Linked DNA regions of Homo sapiens. The protein of the gene in region 1 purifies or fractionates together with the protein of each later gene. This does not show direct contact. Each region holds a gene or a part of one and is shown in the gene's direction. Other genes may lie near its edges.

Region 1 (8,176 bases):
AGCCAGGCGTGGTGGCGCATGCCTGTAATCCCAGCTACTCAGGAGGCTGAGGCAGGAGAATCGCTTGAACCTGGGAGGTGGAGGTTGCAGTGAGCCAAGATTGCGCCACTGCACTCCAGCCTGGGTGACAGAGCGAGACTCCGTCTTCAAAAACAACAACAACAACAACAACAAAAGAATAGTATAACACTCATATACTAACCACTCGTTAAGAAATAAAACATTACTAATACCGTTGAATATTTGAGTGCTTATGATGTGCCAAGAATTGAGATAATTGTCTACATAGCAGAGAACAAAACACAAGAATTCCTGTCCTCGTGGAGCTTGTGTGGTCACAGATATTAGGTAGAATAGTTATTAGATCTGAATGCAAATAAAGAATAAATAGGTACTGTCTGACAGCATAAATGGTATTCTATCAGTGCATTTGGCTTGGCGAAGTTTATTTTGTACAGACTAAGACATTCAGTCTTTAATGTTTGGTTTCGTTGCCTGGTCAACATTATCCTATTGCTGGTGACCCTACATACATTACGTCTGTAAGAGGAAAAGATTCAGGTCACCTCAAATAATGTTTTTGTGTGTCTATGTATTGCACAGTTGAAGGAAATATAGCTTATCTTTTAAGGCATTTGAAAGGAAATTGACTTTGTAGTTTAAATTCAAAAATAAAACCTTCAAGAAAAAGTGACACCTTAGATTCAGTAACAGAATTATAGATTCATTCTTTCTTGTGATGAGCTTGAAAACTTAAAAAATTCTGGTATACTATACTGAAAACTAGATGAAGTGGTACCTTATATAATTATAGATTTAATATCTCTTGTGATAGACTAGAAACTTAAAAAAAAATCTGTGGTATACTATAAAGAAAACCACAAACTATAGTACTATGAAAGAAACCAAGGTATGTAGAAATGAATAAATACACATCAAAGTTTGCATTAGAAAATATAGTACCCTCAGAACATTATTTTCATTTGGTATTGTTGTAGGTATCGTCAGATCCTGGAAAAAGCCATTCAGTTATCTGGAGCAGAACAACTAGAAGCTTTGAAAGCTTTTGTGGAAGCAAGTAAGTGAAATGGAAATTTCATGCTTGCCTTGTATTACTGAGCTAGGACTTTAAAGTTCTCTCAAGCCTTGTTTTGTATCAAATTATCAATATTAAATATGCATTGAGATTGATTGATTTTAGAATTTAAACTGTTTACAACTTGATTAATTTTCAGTGAATTATCTTCAGAATTACAATCCTAATTAAAGTTTTGTATGTTTATTGTTATAATAGCTGATAAGGGACAATATAGCATAATAGTAAAGAGAATAGTTTGGATTCAAATCCTGGTATGCTATTTTATGAGCTGTGTGATCTTGGGTCAATTATTTAACCTCTCTGTGCCTCCTTTTCCTCTTTAAAATGTACTCTGTAGTACATCTAATGTACCTAAAATGTACTCTATAGTACATTACTGTACTACAGGGTAGTACAGTACTGTACTTTGAGAAGTGTCTGCTTATGTCCCTTGTCAATGTTTTAATGGGGTTGTTTTCTTAATGTTCAACATCACTAATCATCAGAGAAATGCAAATCAATGTGGGATGCCATCTAATATTAGTCAGAATGGCTACTATTAAAAAGTAAAAAAATAACAAATTCTGGTTAGACTTCAGAGAAAATGAAATGCTTATACACTGTTGGTGAGAATGTAAATTAGTTCAGCCACTGTGAAAAGCAGTTTGGAGATTATTCAAAGAATTTAAAGCAGAAGTACCATTCAACCAGCAATTCCATTACTGAGTATATATCCAAAAGAAAATTAAAAATTCCACAAAAAGAAACCCCACATGCACTTGTATATTCGCCATATTGCTATTCACAATAAGGAAGGCATGGACTTAACTTATGTGTGAATCAATAAATTGGATAGAAATATGTGCCACATATACACCATAAAATACTACGCACACATTAAAAAGAATACAATCATGTCCTGTGCAGCAACATGCATATGTCTGTAGGCCATTATCCTAAGGAATTTTATAGTGAGTTCACATGGAATTTTATAGTGAGTTCACATCATTAATGATATCTGATAGTGCTTTACAGTGTGTTCTCACACACATTACCTGTCACATAGGCTCCTTTTAATAACCTGTGACTAGAACGTATAGGTACAGGTATCCCTGTATAATATATTGTAAGACAAGTCTCAGGATTGAGTAACTTTTTTTCAAGGACATTTAGCTGGCAGAGCCCAGATCAGAAACTAGGTTTTCTGATACACTGCTCTTACTTGCTTATATTTCCCTGAGTAATACCAGCTTGTATGGTAACTTAAATGCCTAATGACACTTGTAATGAAACTGTTTTCTCAGTCACATCCTGTATTACCCAATAATGAATTCCAATTAATATGTGATTAATTAATTACAACTGCCTTAAAAAAATACTGCCTTAAAAAGTTACTGCCTTAAAACTTAAAAGGTTACTGCCTTAAAAAATCATGGCCTCCGGTGTGAGATAAACTAGCAATGGTTTCCAAAAAACTGTTAGGAGTGGTTTATTAAGAACTTTGCACTGTAGTAGCAGAAGAATAATGCTTTTTATAACTTTGATCTTGGCTGGGCACGGTGGCTCATGCCTGTAATCCCAACACTTTGCGATTACAGGTATGAGTCATGGCACCCAGCCAAGGGATCACTTGAGCTCAGGAGTTCAAAACCAGCCTGGGCAATGTGGAGAAATCTCGTCTCTACAAAAAAATACGAAAATTAGCCTGGCGTGGTGATGCATGCCTGTAGTCCCAGCTATTGGGACGCTGAGGTGGGAAGACTGCTTGAGCCCCGGTGGTCGAGACTGAAGTGAGCTGAGGTTGCATCACTGCGCTCCAGCCTGGGCAGCAGTAAGATTGTCTCAAAAAAACAATTAAAAAACATATATATATATATTTTTTGATCTTTGTATAAGCTTTGAATCCAGTAAACCACCAGGAAAAGCAGTCTACTGTTAAAATCATTTACATCAACTGAACAGTTTTTGAATCACTTATTTTCATATTAACTGCTGCTTTAAGACTTGAATAATTGGCCGGGGCCATGGCTTACGCCTGTAGTCCCAGCACTTTGGGAGACCGAGATGGGCGGATCACGAGGTCAGGAGATCAAGACCATTTTGGCTAACACGGTGAAACCCTATCTCTACTAAAAATACAAAAAAATCAGCTGGGCGTGGTGGCGGGTGCCTGTAGTCCCAGCTACTCAGGAGGCTGAGGCAGGAGAATGGCATGAACCCGGGAGGTGGAGCTTGCAGTGAGCCAAGATGGTGCCACTGCACTCCAGCCTGGGCGACAGAGCGAGACTCAGTCTCAAAAAAAAAAAATAATAATAATAAAAAAGACTTGAATAATTTATCTAAGCAATAGTTTACAAGAATGATGCATTTAAAATGATAGTTATAATAGTAACATTTGTTGAGTGCTATGTACCAGGTATTGTTTAAAGTGCTTTGTGTATATTATTGCATTTAAGCTTCATAACAACCTTATGAAATAGATGTTACACATGAGGAAACAGAAGCACAGAGAAGCATAGAGAAGTTAAGTTTCTTGTCTGAAGTCATATAATCAGTAGTGGTAGAAGCAGTGTGGCTCCAGAGCTTAATCACATAAAATAATACCTCGTAAATGTTTATAAATAATGTCAATACATCTAGTGCTCACTGAAGTTCTTATTTATTGTTTTTATTGGGAAAGTATAAGTGGCAATAACTGTACTGGCAGCACTTGCTTTATTTAAATTTCATGAAAATTATTTTACTGTTTTCTTTTTTAACTCCTTTTTGGAACAAGGTAGGATATAAGCACATAAATAAAAATATAGGTGTTTTTGTGCCTTCACTTTGTAGAAAAATGAGATAAAATTATCAACTTTTAAAACTTTTTTCAATTATTTCTGTTTCTTAGAAAAGTTGTGTTATTTTTACTGTTTTTTAAGATTTTTTAATTAATTAATGAATTAATTAATTTTGAGACAGAGTCTAGCTCTGTTGCCCAGGCTGGAGTACGGTGCTGTGATCTCGGCTCACTGCAACCCCAGCCTCCCAGGTTCAAGCGATTCTCTTGCCTTAGCCTCCTGAGTAGCTGGGACTACAGGTGCCCACCACCATGCCTGACTAATTTTTTTTTTGTATTTTTAGTAGAGACAGCGTTTCACCACGTTGGTCAGGCTGGTCTCGAACTCCTGACGTCGTGATCTGCCTGCCTCGGCCTCCCAAAGTGCTGAGATTACAGGCGTGAGCCATCGCACTGGCCTATTTTTACTGTTTTTGTGTGGTCATTGTGTAATCAAGTATTTCAGCATAAGGAAAACTGATGATGTAATATAAAATGATAGGGGTATGGAAATCCTTGAATAATGCATTGAAGGCTGTACTAATATAGATTGTTGTTAGTATTAATTTTAAGTAAAGGTTGATTGTTTAATGACAATTTATCAGCTCATGTTTTCTTATCTTTTTTTTTTTTTTAAACAAGTGGTAAATGAGAATGTCAGTCTCGTGATCTCGCGGCAGTTGCTGACTGATTTTTGCACACATCTTCCTAACTTGCCTGATAGCACAGCCAAAGAAATCTATCACTTCACCTTGGAAAAGATCCAGCCTAGAGTCATTTCATTTGAGGAGCAGGTAAAAATCTAGAGAAGTGGTTTTTTAACTTGAGATAGCAGCAGTTATTTTGAGAATCTGATATTAGTAAATTCTTAAAGGAGATAATCATCCAATTTCATTTTTGACAAAACAGTGTGCCAAACGACATTTTATGATGCAAAATCAAGTAAATATTAGGTTGTTACAACTCCAACTGACATTTGCTTATAAAGTAAAATTTGATTTTGTGAATCAAATATTGCTCTCTAGACAATTTTTTAAAATCAGTAAAATTGGTATTTCAGCTGAAAACACAGGAAAACTCCAGCATCGTGTATGCAGGAACATACAAGCTAAATTTAATGTTTAAACTACAGTATTGTACCATAATCCACATTGCAGAAATGTGTTGCTTCCGTTCACTAGTTTGATATTCTGTAAATGCAAAATTCGTAGGAAAACTTGGGTGGTCTTGATAAACGTTTACTGTTTACGTGGCAGCTTAGTATGTTGAATTGCCACTTTAGAATAACTTTCCTATTTATTTTAATTAGTTACTAATGTCAGTTGAAATAATTTGACATGTATACCTATTATTCCAGGTTGCTTCCATAAGACAGCATCTTGCATCTATATATGAGAAAGAAGAAGATTGGAGAAATGCAGCCCAAGTGTTGGTGGGAATTCCTTTGGAAACAGGACAAAAGTATAGTAAATAGTGGATATTGGATGACTATATATAGGATGTATATAATTGCTCACTTATATTTTTTCTTACATTCTAGTACAGGAAACAGATAAACAAATAAATACAAAATTGTGTAGTATGTTAGAAGGTGATAAGTGCTGTGGAGAAAAGTAATGGGGCAAAGCGGGGACAGGTTGTATGTATATTTAAATAGGGTGATTGGGGTAGTAGGGTGGCCCTGATGTCACTTTATCAAAGACTTGAAGGAGATAAGGGAGTAGCTAAGAGTGATCTGAGGAAAGAATATCACCAGATACTCTTGTTGTTGTTGTTGTTGTTGTTGTTTTTTGTGACGGAGTTTTGCTCTGTTGCCCAGGCTGGAGTGCAGTGGCATGATCTCGGCTCACTGCAACCTCTGCCTCCTGGGTTCAAGCAATTCTCCTGCCTCAGCCTCCCAAGTAGCTGGGACTACAGGCATGCACCACCACACCTGGCTATTTTTGTATTTTTACTAGATTTTCACCATGTTTACTAGGTTTCACCATGTTAGCCAGGTTGGTCTCAAACTCCTGACCTCAAGTGATCCACCTACTTCAGCCTCTCTAAGTGCTGGGATTACAGGTCTGTGAGCCACTGCACCTGGCCGAATATCATCACTAGATACTCTTAGAGGAGATGGCTAGTGCAAAGGCCCTAAGATGGGAGCAAGCTTGAAGTGTTTTCTTAATAAGAGCAAGGAGGCCAGTGTGGATAGAGTAGAGTGAGCAAAGGGGCAAGAGATCAGGGATGAGAGTAGAGAGTACTGGGGACCAGGTTATGTGGAGTTTTATAAGCCATTGTAAGGAATTTGGCTTTTCACTAAGTGAAATGAGGGGGAGCCATTGGAGAATTGTGAACAAACAGTGAAATGATCTGACTTCTGTTTTAAATAATTACTCTCACTACTGGGTTGAGAATAAACTGTAGGCAAGCAGTGATAGAAGTAGGGATATTGGTTAAGAGGCTTATGAGACCAGGTACAGTGGCTCACACCTATGGTCCAAGCACTTTGGGAGGCTGAGGTGGGAGAAGATTGCTTGAGCCCAGGAGTTCGAGAACCACTTGGGCAGCATAGCTAGACCCCATCTCCACCAAAAAAAAAAAAAAAAAATGCTGGGCATGATGGCACATGCCTGTAGTCCTAGCTACTTGGGAGGCTGAGGCGGGAGGATCGCTTGAGCCCAGGAGTTTGAGACCAACTTGGACAACATATTGAGAACACCCCCCATCCCTACAAAAAAATTTTTTTTTGTTTTAAATTAGCTGGGCCTGGTGATATAGTATGGATATGCATCTATACTCCCAGGTAGTTGGGAAGCTGAGGCGAGAGGATTGTGTGAACCCAGTAATTTGAGGCTGCAGTGGGCCATGATTGCACTGCTGTACTCCCACCTAGGGCACAAAGCAAGACCCTGTCTTTTTTAAAAAAGGCTTATACAGTACCACAGATAAGGTGGATGTTGTGAGAAGTATTGAATTCTAGATATGTTTTTTAAGGTAGAGTAAGGATTTCCTGATGGCTTGTATGTAGAGTGTGCAAAAAAGAGTCAAGATAAGCCCTGATTTTTGGCCTGAGCAATTGGAAAGTTGGAGTGGGGAAGAATAGGTTTGTAGGGAATATCAAGAGTTTCATTTTGGACATATGATATCCAAGTAGAAATATGTAGTGAGGAGTTGAATGTATTAGTCTGGAGATTAGAAGAGATATCTGGACTAGATATACATATTTGGGAGTTATTGACATATAGATGAAATTTAAAGCCATTAGATTGGATGAGATGCCCAAAGGAGAGAATGTAGATAGGCAAAAGGACTGAGTATAGTGAGGCCTGGAGCACTTCAACGTTAAGAGGTTGGGACCAGGGGAAGATGTAGCAAATGAGAAGGATTATCCATTGAGGTAAGAAGGAAATCAGAATAATGTGGAGGGTGGTGTCCTAGAAGCCAAATGAGGAAAATGTATCAAGGGCCAGGTGGTGAGCTATGGCATTGATAGGTCAAGTAAGATAAGGAGTACAGGTTAACTGTTGGCATTAGTAGTGTAGAGGCCACTGATAACCTTAACCAGCTGAGTTTTGTGAAATGATAGTGAAAGCCTGATTGCATGGTTTAAGAGAGAATGGGAAGAGAAGATGTGGAGATAGTGAGTATGGGCTACCCTGTGGGGGAGTTTTCAAAAAAGGTAGGAAGAAAAACAGGGTAGACGATGACAGCAGACGTTAGGCTAAGGGATTAGTTTTTCTTTTATGATCCAGTAGAAAGCAAAAATTTGATATAGGGGAATTGGGGAGAGGATTCTTGCAGGAGTAGACAAGAGAGGAAGGAATCTAGCAGAGGGATAGGCTTTAGATAGGAATATGGGTAGTTCATCTGTGTCAGAGATTCTCAGCCTCAGCACTACTGGCGTTTTCGGCTAGATACTTTGTTGTGGGGGCTGTCCTGTGTATTGCAGGAGGTTTTAGCAGCACCACTCCTCTGATTGCTGGATGCCAATAGTACTGCTGTTCCTAGTTGTGACAAGAAAAATGTCTGTAGACATATTAGTGATATAGTGGTGGAATTTGTGTAAGTACTCTTTCATTGCATTGCTCCAGTATTCTTTTTTTGTTGGCTTTTTGGTTTTGAGAGAGGGTCTGGCTCTGTCAACCAAGCTGTAGTGCAGTGGTGTGATCTCAGCTCACTTCAGTGTCCGTCTCCTAGCATCCCAAGTAGTTGGGACTACAGGTGCACACCACTACGCCTGGCTAATTTTTGTATTTTTAGTAGAAACGGGGTTTCACCATGTTGCCCAGGCTGGT
Region 2 (6,584 bases), on another chromosome or scaffold:
GGACATGGAAAGCTGAACACTTTTCTCATAGTAGTAGCGGTCAAGGTTACATCACAAGATTTTAAGGAAATGATAACAATAACTAACTTACTCAGCGTTTACAGCCTACACCGCGTTTTCCACCACGGTAATAGTCTACTGTTGCTGTTGCTTATGAAAGTCAGCCCAGGCCTGTCAACCCGCGTTGTTTTCAGAACTGAGATTTACTGTCCTGCCACGTGTGGGATGCAGGATAAGCCGGGAAAGTATTATGAAACGTTTTTTACATGTATTTATCAACCCAGGAAATACTGAACTCTGATGACGCCTGGCCTCTCAGGGACAGGACCGGCCACACGTGCTTTGGAGGGAAAGTCCCCAGATTCCATGTTGTGCAGTTTGAGCCTCCCATTCCATCAAGGGAATAAAGTTGAGATGCACTAAATAGTCGAACACTTAAGAGTCTGGTGGAAGTGCCACTGTCCATCAGCCCACATTTGCCCCCTTCCCTGCAGAGGTGAGGTGCCGTCCTCAGGGCCCTGGGAAGCTCCAAAAGCACCATCAGGTTCACTGCCCCTTCCTCCCACCAGCTGGAGCAAGTCTCCTGTTGCCACTGCAAACAATCAGGCCCAGCGCGAAGCAGAGGTGAGCAAGAGTGGAGTGTGGCAGACCAGGGCACCTGCTCTGCTCTCGGGTAGAGAGTGGCAGACCAGGGCGCCCACTCTGCTCTCAGGGGTAGAGTGTGGCAGACCAGGGCGCCCGCTCTGCTCTCGGGTAGTTGGGTTTTTTTTTTCTTTGAGATGGAGTCTTGCTGTCCCCCAGGATGGAGTGCAGTGGCACGATCTCGGCTCACTGTAACCTCTGCCTCTCGGGTTCAAGCAGTTCTCCTGCCTCAGCCTCCTGAGTAGCTGGGCTTACAGGCACGCGCCACCACACCCAGCTAATTTTTGTATTTTTAGTAGAGACAGGGTTTTACCGTGTGGTCAGGCTGGTCTCAAACTCCTGACCTCGTGATCCGCCTGCCTCAACCTCCCAAAGTGCTGGGATTACAGGCGTGAGCCACCGCGCCCAGCCTCAGCCACATCTTGTAAAATGTGTGGCTTATCACTGAATAGAAGGTGAAGTTTGTTTGGAAAATAGAGGGTCTCCCTTGTATAGGGAGAGCCTTGCACGTAAGTGCTCACACAGATTTTCTTCCTAATACAGCAGAGCTGGAGTGGCTGTTCCCTCTGGGCAGAGACAGGCTGTGGCTGTGGATTCGTCTCCTCAGTCACCTACTCTTAGTGCAGGAACACTGGGGATTGTAGTTTCACTTACGTGGACATGGCATGCAATAACTATGTAAATACACGAGAATAAAACTACAGGCCAGGCGCACTGCCTCACGCCAGCGATCCCAGCACTTTGGGAGCTGAGGCAGGCGGATTGATTGAGCCCAGGAATTTGAGACCAGCCTGGGCAACATAGTGAGACCCCTTCTCTACAAAAAATAAAATTAGCCAGGCATGGTGGTGTGCAGCCTGTGATCCCAGCTACTGGGGAGGCTGAAGCACGAAGATTGCTTGAGTCCAGGAGGTGGAGGCTGCAGTGAGCTGAGATCGCACCACTGCACTCCAGCCTGGGCGACAAAATGAGACCCCATCTCAAAATAAATAAACAAAATAAAATACACTACTTAGGCAGAAGCATCCTTTCAAAGGATAAAAGTTGCCCCAGTAAGACATGTTGAGATTTTCCTTTCAAATAAAAATGTGTCACGTGATCGGGTCTGCCTCACTTATACGTGCCCTTGCTGATGGCAGATGTCGGATCTGCCTCGCTTATACGTGCCCTTGCTGATGGCAGATGTCGGATCTGCCTCGCTTATACGTGCCCTTGCTGATGGCAGATGTCGGATCTGCCTCGCTTATACGTGCCCTTGCTGATGGCAGATGTCGGATCTGCCTCGCTTATACGTGCCCTTGCTGATGGCAGATGTCGGGTCTGCCTCGCTTATACGTGCCCTTGCTGATGGCAGATGTCGGGTCTGCCTCGCTTATACGTGCCCTTGCTGATGGCAGATGTCGGGTCTGCCTCGCTTATACGTGCCCTTGCTGATGGCAGATGTCGGGTCTGCCTCACTTATACGTGCCCTTGCTGATGGCAGATGTCGGATCTGCCTCGCTTATACGTGCCCTTACTGATGGCAGATGATGTATGTACATTTCACAAGTTTCACGTTTCCCTCAGGAAACCACACTCTGACCATAAACTCACATGGACGCTTTTTTTATCAAGAGATAACGTTAACTTTGTCTTTAAAATAGAAAGTTTTGTTCATTTCATAAATATGTGTATAATTATAAATGATTTTCATATAAATATCTATTTGTATATATATTTCTATAAGTATAGTTACATACTTCATGCATATACCCCTTGTATGTAAATGTTTGTAAATTTAATGCCATTGTAATTAGGGGGGTTTTATTCTTCTTTTTTAGCCTGGAGATTTGAAAAAGAGAATTGAATCTCTGATAGACAGAGACTATATGGAGAGAGACAAAGACAATCCGAATCAGTACCACTACGTGGCCTGACGCATCTGCAGACGGTTCCCCTTCATGAAACACTAGAATGTACCCTCAGAGCAGGAAGCACACCTGTGCCATTTCTGGGACTCTGATTGATCCAGCTGTGGACATTGGAAGGCGAAGGAAGGGAGGTGGCTCCTGGGTCATCTTTCACAAGGCTCAAGACTTCAACCTGCAGATGTATCTTTTTCCCTCCAGTTTTTCCTCTAGTTCTTTTAGGCATTTAAATTGTTTCTGTTACTCTGTGCAAAATAACTTTGAGATTGGACAAGAAGATGTTACTAAAGAGAAGTTCCTTTAAAAGGTCTTGTTCTTGTGTCAAAAAGCTGCAAGTTTGGTTTGTTCTCGTGTGTGATCATGAGTGCACAATGAAGAAGACCCTAGATGCTGCATTTTTTAGCTCTGAAGATTCCTTAGGTATCCCTGAAGACAGCTCGCTCAGATGATCAGCATTTAGAGTGAAAACAAGGGCCCTTCATGGGTGAACATTAGAAAGAGCCAGGGTTCAAAGCTGGCGAATGGATGACGCACCCTAGCCACTGGCCCCTCTCTGTTTCATGTATTTCCAAAAGTTGTAAACTTTGATGGCTGATTTTTCGTAAGTCAGGTTTCTAAGTGAGCTCCCTGAGGTGCCAAGGCCATGGTGTCCGCCCTGCTGCGTCTGTTCGTCAGCTGAGTTCCTTGTGAATCTCTGTTTTAGGGTTTGGGGCTAGTGTGTTTGTGTTTCCATTCTAAGATTGAGTCTGGCAGTCCCTGTTTTTTTGCATTGGGGTAACTGCTCTTTGATTTTTTTTAATTGCAGTATTTGTGTGATTGCAATAATAAAGTTTGGTTTGGTTTTTACAGTCATGCGCAGGGACGATCCTTGTTCTCTGCTGTAAACTGTAAAAAGTTTATGGAGACTTAAAGTCTTGATGTTGTGAAGCAGAGGTTATTTTGTGGAAAGATTAAAAGGATTTTGTTGGTACCTGGTTTTGTGTTGTGTATATATACATGAGGTTGAACAGTGAAAGGAAAGTTCAGTAGTGATGTTAGAAGGGTAACTATGACAAAGATACTTTTGAGATAACATTTAAAAGTACTTTATATTTTACATAATAGCATGTTTCATTTTGATTAAAAGCTACCAAAGGAATTTTGATCATGGCATAAGTGTTTAAAGCAATATTTTCTGGAATATACCAAGTTTATATAATTTGATTTTGTGCTAAATTATTAAGAGTCTCTTTTTGAAACATGCGGGTTTGAAATATGACACCTTGTGGGTTTCCATATTAAAATCCTCACTCTTTAATTGTCATTTCTATCTTTGAAAATTTTCATTTATGAGTTCCATGATATGTGGTCTAAGAAAGACCAAACAGATTTCTATTTTTTTTTTCTTATAAGTTCGTTGTGTCTAGAGATTGTTAATATTGTAATTTAATGTAGACTTACTTTGAATAAAATTAGTTTAATTGGCCTTAAAATTACATTAATAAAACTTTGTGATATGCAAATGACACATTCTTCATAACTCTTTAGCAGCTTTGACTACTAGTGCACTAGACAGAAGTCAGAGCAGGGAGCACCTGTCCCCTCTCAAGTGATTATTCTTTCCTGGCCACCTCTACCACAAAATACCAGTGGGGCCAGGTAGTGACAAGTGGGTCTTTTTTACTTGGACGATTCGTTGTGCTGTGCCTTTGTTTCATTTGAGCACAGTGGCTCACGCCTGTAGTCCCAGCTATGGGAGGGCAAGGTGGGAGGATCGTTTGAGCCTGAGTTCCAGACCATCCTGAGCACCATAGGGAGATCCTGTTTCCATTTTAGTTTATTTATTTTTAATTGAGGTGGAGTCTTGCTCTGTTGCCCAAGCTGGAGTGCAGTGGTGCAATCTCAGCTCACTGCACCCTCCGCCTCCTGGGTTCAAGCAGTTCTCCCACCTCAGTCTCCCAAGTAGCTGGGATTACAGGCACCCGCCATCATGCCCAGCTAATATTTGTATTTTTGTAGAGACGGGGTTTCACTATGTTGGCCAGACTGGTCTTGAACTCCTAACCTCAGGTGATCTGCCCGCCTTGGCCTCCCAAAGTGCTGGGATTACAGGCGTGAGCCACCATGCCCGGCCTGCCTGTTTCTGTTTTATAAAAGAAAGGAAAATCTATTTATATCTATTCTCTTATTTAGCAATATTTAATGTTTTATTGTTAAAGGTCAGTGTGGTAAAACAAATAGTATAGAAGAAATCATTGAAAAAGAAACAGCACTTAGACAGAAATGCTGTAAAAGTGGAAAGGAGAAGGTGAAATTACTTGCAGGTTAGATGGTTGCATACCCAGGTCATCTAAGGAGCAAATGAAAATCTGTGACTGAAGAAAGAATTCACCAAGTTAACCAGACACAAAATTAACAAAAACATCAGTAGCTTTCCTATAAATATAGGCTATAATGGAGGGTCATTTTTTATTTTTATTTAGAGACAGGGTCTTAACTGTCACCTGGACTGGAGTGCAGTGGCATGATCATGTTTCACGGCAGCCTCTACCTTCTGGGCTCAAGCGATCCTCTCTTCTCAGCCACCTGAGTAGCTGGGCCTACAGGTGTACATCACCACGCCCAGATAATTTTTATTGTATTTTTTATAGAGGCAGTGTCTTGCTATGTTGCCAAGGCTGTTCTTGTACTCCTGGCCTCAAGCGAACCTCCTACCTCAGCCTCCCCAAATGCTGGGATTACAGGCATGAGACACTGCACCTGACCAGAAGTCATTTTTTCAATAGCAACCCCCAAAAAAGATAAAATACCTAGTAACAAATAGGGAAACACCTATGTGAAAGGTATTATAACATTACTAAGGAACACAGGCCCTGAATAAGTGAAAGTTCTGTTGATTCTCACATTTTGCTATACAGTATCTTAAGATGTAAAACCTTCCTTTAAAACACAAGCGGATTCTAAAGTTAAAACAGAAAAGCAAATATGCCAGACTAGTCAAATTGTTTTAAATTCTGCTGTTTTTAGAACATTGTAATTGAAACAGCATGATGCTGGCCCTTTAAAAAGATTCCTGGAACAAGAAAGTCCACAAATAAGCCAAATACACAGGAACTCGGCGTGGCACAAAGGGGCCGTGTGTGATCAGGAACTGGAACTTTGCAACAACTACCCATGCTCAGAAGTTTGGGCCACCTTGAAAAGAGAAAAGTTGGATTAGACTCCTTTTTATACTAAGGGAAGTTCCAAGTGGTCAAGTATTTACGTGTAAAAAAATACATATATATGAAACCATAATCATAAGATACTTTTTTTGTAAATTGACTATTATTGTATAAATTTATAGAGTATAAAGTGATCTTATAAATTATGCATACATTGTGGACTAGTCAAGCTAGTTACATCCATCACCTCAAATACTTAACATTTTTGTAGTGAGAACATCTGAAATTTACTCTTAGCAATTTTGAAATGTACAATACTCAATTTTTGACTGTATTCACCATGCTGTACAATAGAACTCAGAAAAAGAAAAATATAGTCCTCCTTTCTAAGATTTTTGGACCCGTTGCCCCTTTATTTGTGTTTTTCCACTAAGTGATCTAGTGAATTCACATCGATTTTTTTAAAAAAGGATTGACATTAAATGACATCTTTTAAAGTCAACATGGGGGAAAACAAGGTTAAAAAAACTGGAACCCTTGCCGGGCACCATGGCTCATCCCTGTAATCCCAGCACTTTGGGAGTCTGAGGCGGGCGGATCACGAGGTCAGGAGATCGAGACCATCCTGGCTAACACAGTGAAACCCCGTCTGTACTGAAAATACAAAAAAAAAAGCCCAACGTGGCGGCAGGCGTCTGTAGTCCCAGTTGCTGGGGAGGCTGAGGCAGGAGAATGGCGTGAACCCGGGAGGCGGAGCTTACAGTGAGCTGAGATCACGCCACTGCTCTCCAGCCTGGATGACAGAGCAAAACTCCATCTCAAAAAAAAAAAAAAACTGGAACCATCTTGGATAAAATGTACGACAAAGTACTGATGAGTTTAATGTTAACAG
Region 3 (7,588 bases), on another chromosome or scaffold:
TCAGCAATAAAATGAGATGAGCTCTTGATACAGCAAACTCAGATGAATCTCAGAGGCATGATGAGTGAAATGAAACAAGACAGTCTCAAAAGGTTGCATACTGCCTAATTCATTTACATGACATTCTATTTTTAATTTTATTTTATTTTATTTTTAGAGACAGGGTCTTGCTCTGTCACCCACGCTAGAGTGCAGTGATTCGATCGCAACTCACTGCAGCCTCGACCTCCAGGCTTCCGTCATCTTCCCACCTCAGCCTTCTGAGTAGCTAGAACCACATGCACCTACCACCATGTCTAAATTTTTTTTGTGTGTGTAGAGATGGGGTCTCCCTATATTGCTTAGGCTGGTCTTGAACTCCTGGCCTCAAGCAATCCCCCCGCCTCAGTCTCCCCAGGTGTTGGGATTACTGTGCTCGGTCTATAGGACATTCTATGAGGGCAAAACAATAGTGATGGAGAACAGATCAGCCAGGGGCTGGGGGCGAGGGGAGGGTGTGATTACAATGGGATACCACGATGGAGTTTTTGGGCTGTTGCAAATGTTCTGCATCCTGATTTGGGTGGTGGTTATTTAAGTCTATACATATGTTAAAATTCAGAGAACTTTATATCCCAAATTTGCTATATGTTAATTAAAAAAAAAAGTAAAAATAAAGCCTTAAGAAATGAAGGGAGGCGGGGCACGGTGGCTCACGCCTGTAATCCCAGCACTTTGGGAGGCCAAGGGTGGCGGATTACCTGAGGGCAGGAGTTCCAGACCAGCCTGGCCAACATGGTGAAACCCTGTCTCTACTAAAAATATACAATTTAGCCATGCGTGGTGGTGGGCACCTGTAATCCCAGCTGCTTGGGAGGCTGAGGCAGGAGAATCGCTTGAACCTGGAAGGCAGAGGTTGCAGTGAGCCGAGGTCGTGACAGAGCAGGACTCCATCTCAAAAACATAAAAATAAAAATAAAAATAAAAAAAAGAAAGAAATGAAGGGGCCAGACAAAGCGGCTCATGCCTGTAATCTTAGCACTTTGGGAAGCCGTGGCAGGGGGATCGCTTGAGCTTAGGAGTTCAAGACCAGCTTGGGCAACGTGACAAAACCCCATCTTAAAAAAAAAAAATAGAAAAATTAGCTGGGCATGGTGGCACGCACTTGGGAGGCTGAGGTGGGAGGATCGCTTGAGCCCAGGAGATTGAGGCTGCAGTGAGCCGTGTTTGTGCCACTGCACTTCAGCCTAAGTGACAGAGAAAGACCCTATTTCAAAGGAAAAGAAAAAGAAGTGAAGGCCCTGTAGAGAGCGTCCTAGTGTCTAAGCTGACCTGGCCCCAAGCGCTGCTCGAGGGGTGCTTCTGTGACGGCGCAGCATGTGTGCCCAGGCCTGGTTCCTCACGGCCAGGCCCATCATCACTCACTGGCTTTTTCCTTCCTCGTGTTAGATTGGAGCTGGAGGGAGCATCACTGGGCTGAAGTTTAACCCTCTCAATACCAACCAGTTTTACGCCTCCTCAATGGAGGGAACAACTAGGCTGCAAGACTTTAAAGGCAACATTCTACGAGTTTTTGCCAGCTCAGACACCATCAAGTGAGTAGTTTAACTAGCAGGGGAAAGGGCTTCTAAGCTTAGGTGTAGTTCCGGCAAGAGCATCCAGATCCCATTTCCTTAACCCAACCTGGCCCAGGGAAGAAAGGAAAGATGTCAGCCACTTTCCGCCCTTCTTTCTCTTTCTCAAACTGCTCCTTGGCTGCCCTCACTTTGGTCCAGGTGGGTTACTGCTTTGGGAAGGTGTTCTGGAGCCTCAGCTCTTCTGTAAGTCATACCTGTATTAGACTGGACCTTGACCCTCACTAGATAAGCCAGCATGGCGTGGACCCAGAAAGCCACCTAGAGAATGGAGCAACAGCTCAGAACTTGAGACTGAATGCCCTGCACTCACTGTGGTGTAATGACCTGACCTGTTCCTGGGTGGAAGCTTATATGGATGGAATCTTTTCCATAAAGTGCTCTGGACTTCCCAAGAGAAAGTGGCTGGAGAAATTACAGAATGCGGCCGGGTGCAGTGGCTCATGCTTGAAATCCCAGCACTTTGGGAGGCCAAGGTGGGTGGATCACCTGAGGTCAGGAGTTCGAGACCAGCCTGGCCAACATGGTGAAACCCCCATCTCTACTAACAATACAAAAAATTAGCTGGGCGTGGTGGTAGGCCCCTGTAATTCCCAGCTACTTGGGAGGCTGAAGCAAGAGAATCGCTTGAACCCAGGAGGCAGAGGTTGCAGTGAGCCGAGATGGCGCCATTGCACTCCATCCTGGGCAACAAGAGCGAAAATCTATCTCAAAAAAAAAAAAAAAAAATTACAGAATACTCGTCACTTTGATTTCCAGCTAGAGCCGTGACTCTGACTGCTCCCTGAGGAATTAAGTGAGGGTGCTGGGGTGTAACTAGCATTGGATTGGATCCTGGGCTGTCCCGCAGGGATGAGGAGTGCATGCGCACGCAAATCAGCAGGCAATTGGATAGACAAGGCTCCAGGCTACTCTTCCGCAAGAAATCTTCCTGCTTGAAGATATTCATAGGGGATGGCAAAAGGCAGTGTAGCATGGATTTGAGAGTTTGAGAGAAAAACTGTGAGCTGAGCTCTTCTGGCTGAATAGCAGGATCCCTGAAGCACCCTCCTAGTCAGCCTCCCAGTCCAGTGGTTTGAGGGACCAGAAGAGCTCCTGGTTGTGTTTTTTCCCCCAGTGTTCAGAAGGGGGCAGAAGTGCTTTTCTAGCCAGCTCTGAGGAACAGGGCCAGGCAATCCCTCTTTGGCTTGTGTCTCCTTTGGCCTAAAGGGTGAAGAGTGAAAGGAGAGAGCAGTAAAGGAGGCTTGCTCAGAACCCGGGGTGTGGGGGGCAGGCGTGCCTCAGGGCTTGCTTTATGGTATAAGCTTTGTCTGCTTCAGGGACTTTTAGGAGCTGGGGATCCTGGGCCCAGCCATAACCAGACAGATTTCTGAGCCCCATTATCCCATCCCCTCTGTCTGGACGGTAGAGCAGTCTGAATGTTCCTCACTAGGAATCCACGGCAAGACAGTTATTCATTCATTCAACAAATATTTATTGAATGCCCGCTGTGGGTTAGTCACCGGAGCGGCAACAGTGAGTAAATAGGACTATCTCTGTCCCCAAGAATCTTACAACACAGTCTCTCCCTCCAGCATCTGGTTTTGTAGCCTGGATGTGTCTGCTAGTAGCCGAATGGTGGTCACAGGAGACAACGTGGGGAACGTGATCCTGCTGAACATGGACGGCAAAGAGGTGCGTTCTCCGAGGTCCTGCCTTTCCCTCCCTCACCCCCACCTCGGTTCTGTGTCCCCACCTGAACCGAGCTCTTCTCTGCAGCTTTGGAATCTCAGAATGCACAAAAAGAAAGTGACGCATGTGGCCCTGAACCCATGCTGTGATTGGTTCCTGGCCACAGCCTCCGTAGATCAAACAGTGAAAATTTGGGACCTGCGCCAGGTTAGAGGGAAAGCCAGCTTCCTCTACTCGCTGCCGCACAGGCATCCTGTCAACGCAGGTGTGATATCCCAGACCTCATCTCTCCTGCAGACCCTGCCTGTCTGACCACTGCTGGGGTTTTCCCTCAGTGTGGAAGCCACTACGTCAAACCTTTACCCCTGATAGCGTCTGCCAAGCTGATGTCTGGGAACCTTTGTGGCTGTGGCTGTCCCCATCAGCTGCTGAGTTTCCAGAATTTTTTTGTTGTTGTTCACAGCCCAGATTCACCTCTTCCTTTCCGCTCCTGTCTAGAGAGGAGTGGGAGGGAGAGTACCCCTGCAGGAGAAGGCCTGCAAGGCCAGGACCACAGAGGGCTTGTGGTTCCTTCAGCTCAGGGGCTTTTCACTTTGCCAGCTTGTTTCAGTCCCGATGGAGCCCGGCTCCTGACCACGGACCAGAAGAGCGAGATCCGAGTTTACTCTGCTTCCCAGTGGGACTGCCCCCTGGGCCTGATCCCGCACCCTCACCGTCACTTCCAGCACCTCACACCCATCAAGGTGAGTGGCGGTGGGAAGGAGCTCGCAGAAGGAGGCTGTGATCATGAGGCCGGAGCAGGTCTGCCCACAGTGGGGAAGGGCTGATGTGGTAAGCCTGCCACCCCAGATCGCTCCTGGCCCGAGCACAGAGCATCTCTTACCCATTGGCTCTCTCTCTTCCTTTTATCCCACTTCTGCCATCCCATATGGTTGAGTTTTCTGTCTCGCTGATAAGATATTTTTCTGAGTTTTTTCAGCCCAGCTCTGATCTCACTGTGAGAATTTTCTAAGATCCTGACCCTCTGTTCTGTCTTCTCAGCTTCAGTTACCTGTGTACAGTTGACCCACAAACCTTCATTTTTTATTTTTTTATTATTTTTTTTAAGGCAGGGTCTCGCTCTGTCACCCAGGTGGGAGTACAGTGGGGCAAGCATGGTTCATTACAGCCTTGATCTCCCAGGCTCAAGCGATCCTCCTGCCTCACTTTTTTTTTTTTTGTAGAGACAGGGTATTCTTGTGTTACCCAGGCTGATCCTTTTTTTTTTTTTTTTTTTTTTTCTTGAAACGGTCTTGCTCTGTCACCCAGGCTGGAGTGCAGTGGCACAAACATAGCTCACTGCAGCCTCAACCTCCTGGGTTCAAGCAATCCTTCCGCCTTAGCCTCGGAAGTAGATTGGACTACAGGTATGCGCCACCATACCCAGCTAATTTTTTTATTTTTTATAGAGATGGGGTTTTGCCATGTTGCCCAAGCTGGTCTTGAACTCCTAGGTTGAAGCCATCCCCCAACCTTGGCCTCCCAAAGTGCTAGGATTACAGGCATGAGCCACTGCGCCTGGCAACTTTGCCTTCTTAGTTTGTCTTGCAGGTTTCAGTGCTTCTAATAATAAAAATAAGTCTTTTATTTTCCCACCTTTTCTCAGGCTCTTGTTAATAGCTTCTCTATCATTAGTCCCCAACACTAATAGCTTTCAAGTCCTTTGATGCCTTTTTGCCTAAGCCCCCATGCAGACTGAGCTCTGCTAGTTCTGCATTCTTTTCCAAAACTACAGATCCTCTTCAGATCTTCAGGTTTTATGCCTATACTTCTCTGGTCAGTTCAGAATAGTGGTGGGGAGCGCCAGTTTCCAGCAGCCAGACCCCCCGGGTTAGAATCCTTGGGCAAATTACTTATATTTTGGATCTGTTTCCTCATCTGCAAAAAGGGAATACTAGTCTCTAACTGATAGGGTTGTTGTGAAGATGAGTCAGTATACTTAAAGCACTTGGCCCCATGCCCAGCACCTGGTAAGTACTGGTAAGTATTCAATAAATGATGATTGAATATTGAGTGGCCCCCACGTACCTCAATCACATCCAAGCTCTTAATAAATAATGTCAAGAATCCTTCCCCAGTTGGTGTTCCTGTTAATCCATCAGTGTTCCCGATAATCCATCTGTCTGCATGTCCCAGTTTGTATCTAGCCAGGTGTCGTAAGTCATTACAGCTTCCTGTGTGTGATTTGTGACTTATTTCTAAGCCTTCGCATGTACTATTTCTTCCTTCCTGCTAACCATGTCTTTCTTCCTTCAAAACTTCCTTGAGAAGTTTAGGAAAATCCCATCCAATTCTGCCATTTTAATAACTGCCAGATTTGTTTTTAGTGGGGTGATCTGGGGAATGTGGGTTTCCTTCTCTTTTTTAGCCATTAGCAATTTTACACTCAGCTCTTAGTTATTCGTGTTGATGGAGACAGGATGACAGTGGGGCTCCTCCAGAACTCAAGTCCTGTTAGGGTTTGGTCACCAGAGGCTTTTTCTGCTTTGTTGTAGGCCTCTTAGGTCAGTATCTGGGTCAGGCTGATGTTAAAACGTTTACCAGTTGGTATGATCTTAGGAAATGCAAATGAGGGAGAAGGCCTGAAGGTGCCCTAAGGGCCAGGGAGGCCAGCTAGGGATTAAAAATGTGCAATGGCAGAGGCACACACAACCTAAAACCATTCTTGTAGTTTTCTGTAAGACTTATCTCCATTATTAGGTTGGCTTGTTACTGGCAAATACTACTTTTTTTTTTTTTTTTTTGAGAGTCTTGCTCTGTCACCTAGGCTGGAGTGCAGTGACATGATCTTCACTCACTGCAACCTCCGCCTCCCGGGTTCAAGTGATTCCCCTGCCTCAGCCTCCCAAGTAGCTGGGACTACAGGCATGTACCACCACGCCCAGCTAATTTTTTTTTTGGTATTTTTAGTAGGGACGGGGTTTCACCATGTTAGCCAGGATGGTCTCGATCTCCTGACCTCGTGATCCGCCTGCCTCAGCCTCCCAAAGTGTTGAGATTACAGGTGTGAGCCACTGCACTCAGCCCAAAGAATACTTTTGATGTTCCTCTTTGTTCATATTTGTTTTTGATGTCCCCCTTGATCATGTTCTGTGTTTACCCTCATGGCCGGCCTCTCCATCTCCTAGGCAGCCTGGCATCCTCGCTACAACCTCATTGTTGTGGGCCGATACCCAGATCCTAATTTCAAAAGTTGTACCCCTTATGAATTGAGGACGATCGACGTGTTCGATGGAAACTCAGGGAAGATGATGTGTCAGCTCTATGACCCAGAATCTTCTGGCATCAGTTCGGTGAGGCTTGGGTCCTCAAATAATGATGGGAGGAAGCAGGGATTCAACCTACCTTATTGACCAAAAGTGACCAGAAATCAGGTGTCTCTGCTAATACCTTCACCCTCTCCTCATGTTGACACTCTTGTCTCTGCAGCTTAATGAATTCAATCCCATGGGGGACACGCTGGCCTCTGCAATGGGTGAGTAGGAGGAGAATGTCTCTGACTTGCCAAGTCCGATCCTACTTCCCAAGGTTCAGTGCGGGCCAGCCTCAGCCCCGCCCTGCCACATTCACCCCAGGGCAGTGGCCCACGAAGAAGATGGCTGGGAGACAGTGGTCTCTATAGCCAAGGCCCTCCATTCCTCTGGCTTTGTCTTGGTCATGCAATGCCTGGCTACTGTCCAGTTTCCTAGTATTTCTTTTTTTTTTTTGAGACGGAGTCTCGCTCTGTCCCCCCGGGCTGGAGTGCAGTGGCGTGATCTTGGCTCAATGCAAGCTCCGCCTCCTGGGTTCACGCCATTCTCCTGCCTCAACCTCTCGAGTAGCTAGGACTACAGGTGCCCGCTACCACGCCCAGCTAATTTTTTGTATTTTTAGTAGAGACAGGGTTTCACCGTGTTAGCCAGGATGGTCTCGGTCTCCTGACCTCGTGATCCGCCCACCTCAGCCTCCCAAAGTGCTGGGATTACAGACTTGAGCCACCGCGCCCGGCCTTCCTAGTATTTCTTTACCAAATTGTAGGTTTGCGGGCCAGCCCCAGGCTCTGAGAGATTGGTAACAGAAAGTGTAAGTCAGACTGGTCTCACTCTTCCTAGGTTACCACATTCTCATCTGGAGCCAGGAGGAAGCCAGGACACGGAAGTGAGAGACACTAAAGAAGGTGTGGGCCAGACAAGGCCTTGGAGCCCACACATGGGATCAAGTCCTGCAAGCAGAGGTGGCGATTTGTTAAAGGGCCAAAAGTATCCAAGGTTAGGGTTGGAGCAGGG

What was found.
Region 2: the proteins of COPS4 (region 1) and CUL4A purify together in Homo sapiens (affinity purification with mass spectrometry; 7 studies listed by BioGRID and IntAct, with this or other methods). This does not show direct contact.
Region 3: the proteins of COPS4 (region 1) and DDB2 purify together in Homo sapiens (affinity purification with mass spectrometry; 9 studies listed by BioGRID and IntAct, with this or other methods). This does not show direct contact.

What each region holds. Positions count from the first base shown.
Region 1 is NC_000004.12:83,044,628-83,052,803, forward strand, and holds part of COPS4 (COP9 signalosome complex subunit 4), read left to right. Parts: intron 1-998; coding exon 999-1,078; intron 1,079-4,538; coding exon 4,539-4,690; intron 4,691-5,253; coding exon 5,254-5,357; intron 5,358-8,176. UniProt on the Homo sapiens protein: Component of the COP9 signalosome complex (CSN), a complex involved in various cellular and developmental processes.
Region 2 is NC_000013.11:113,261,025-113,267,608, forward strand, and holds the end of CUL4A (cullin-4A), read left to right. Parts: intron 1-1,895; exon of another isoform or gene 1,896-1,975; intron 1,976-2,462; coding exon 2,463-2,558; 3' UTR 2,559-6,084; downstream 6,085-6,584. UniProt on the Homo sapiens protein: Core component of multiple cullin-RING-based E3 ubiquitin-protein ligase complexes which mediate the ubiquitination of target proteins. As a scaffold protein may contribute to catalysis through positioning of the substrate and the ubiquitin-conjugating enzyme.
Region 3 is NC_000011.10:47,231,386-47,238,973, forward strand, and holds part of DDB2 (DNA damage-binding protein 2), read left to right. Parts: intron 1-1,428; coding exon 1,429-1,574; intron 1,575-3,187; coding exon 3,188-3,287; intron 3,288-3,371; coding exon 3,372-3,549; intron 3,550-3,884; coding exon 3,885-4,027; intron 4,028-6,451; coding exon 6,452-6,616; intron 6,617-6,752; coding exon 6,753-6,798; intron 6,799-7,414; coding exon 7,415-7,464; 3' UTR 7,465-7,588.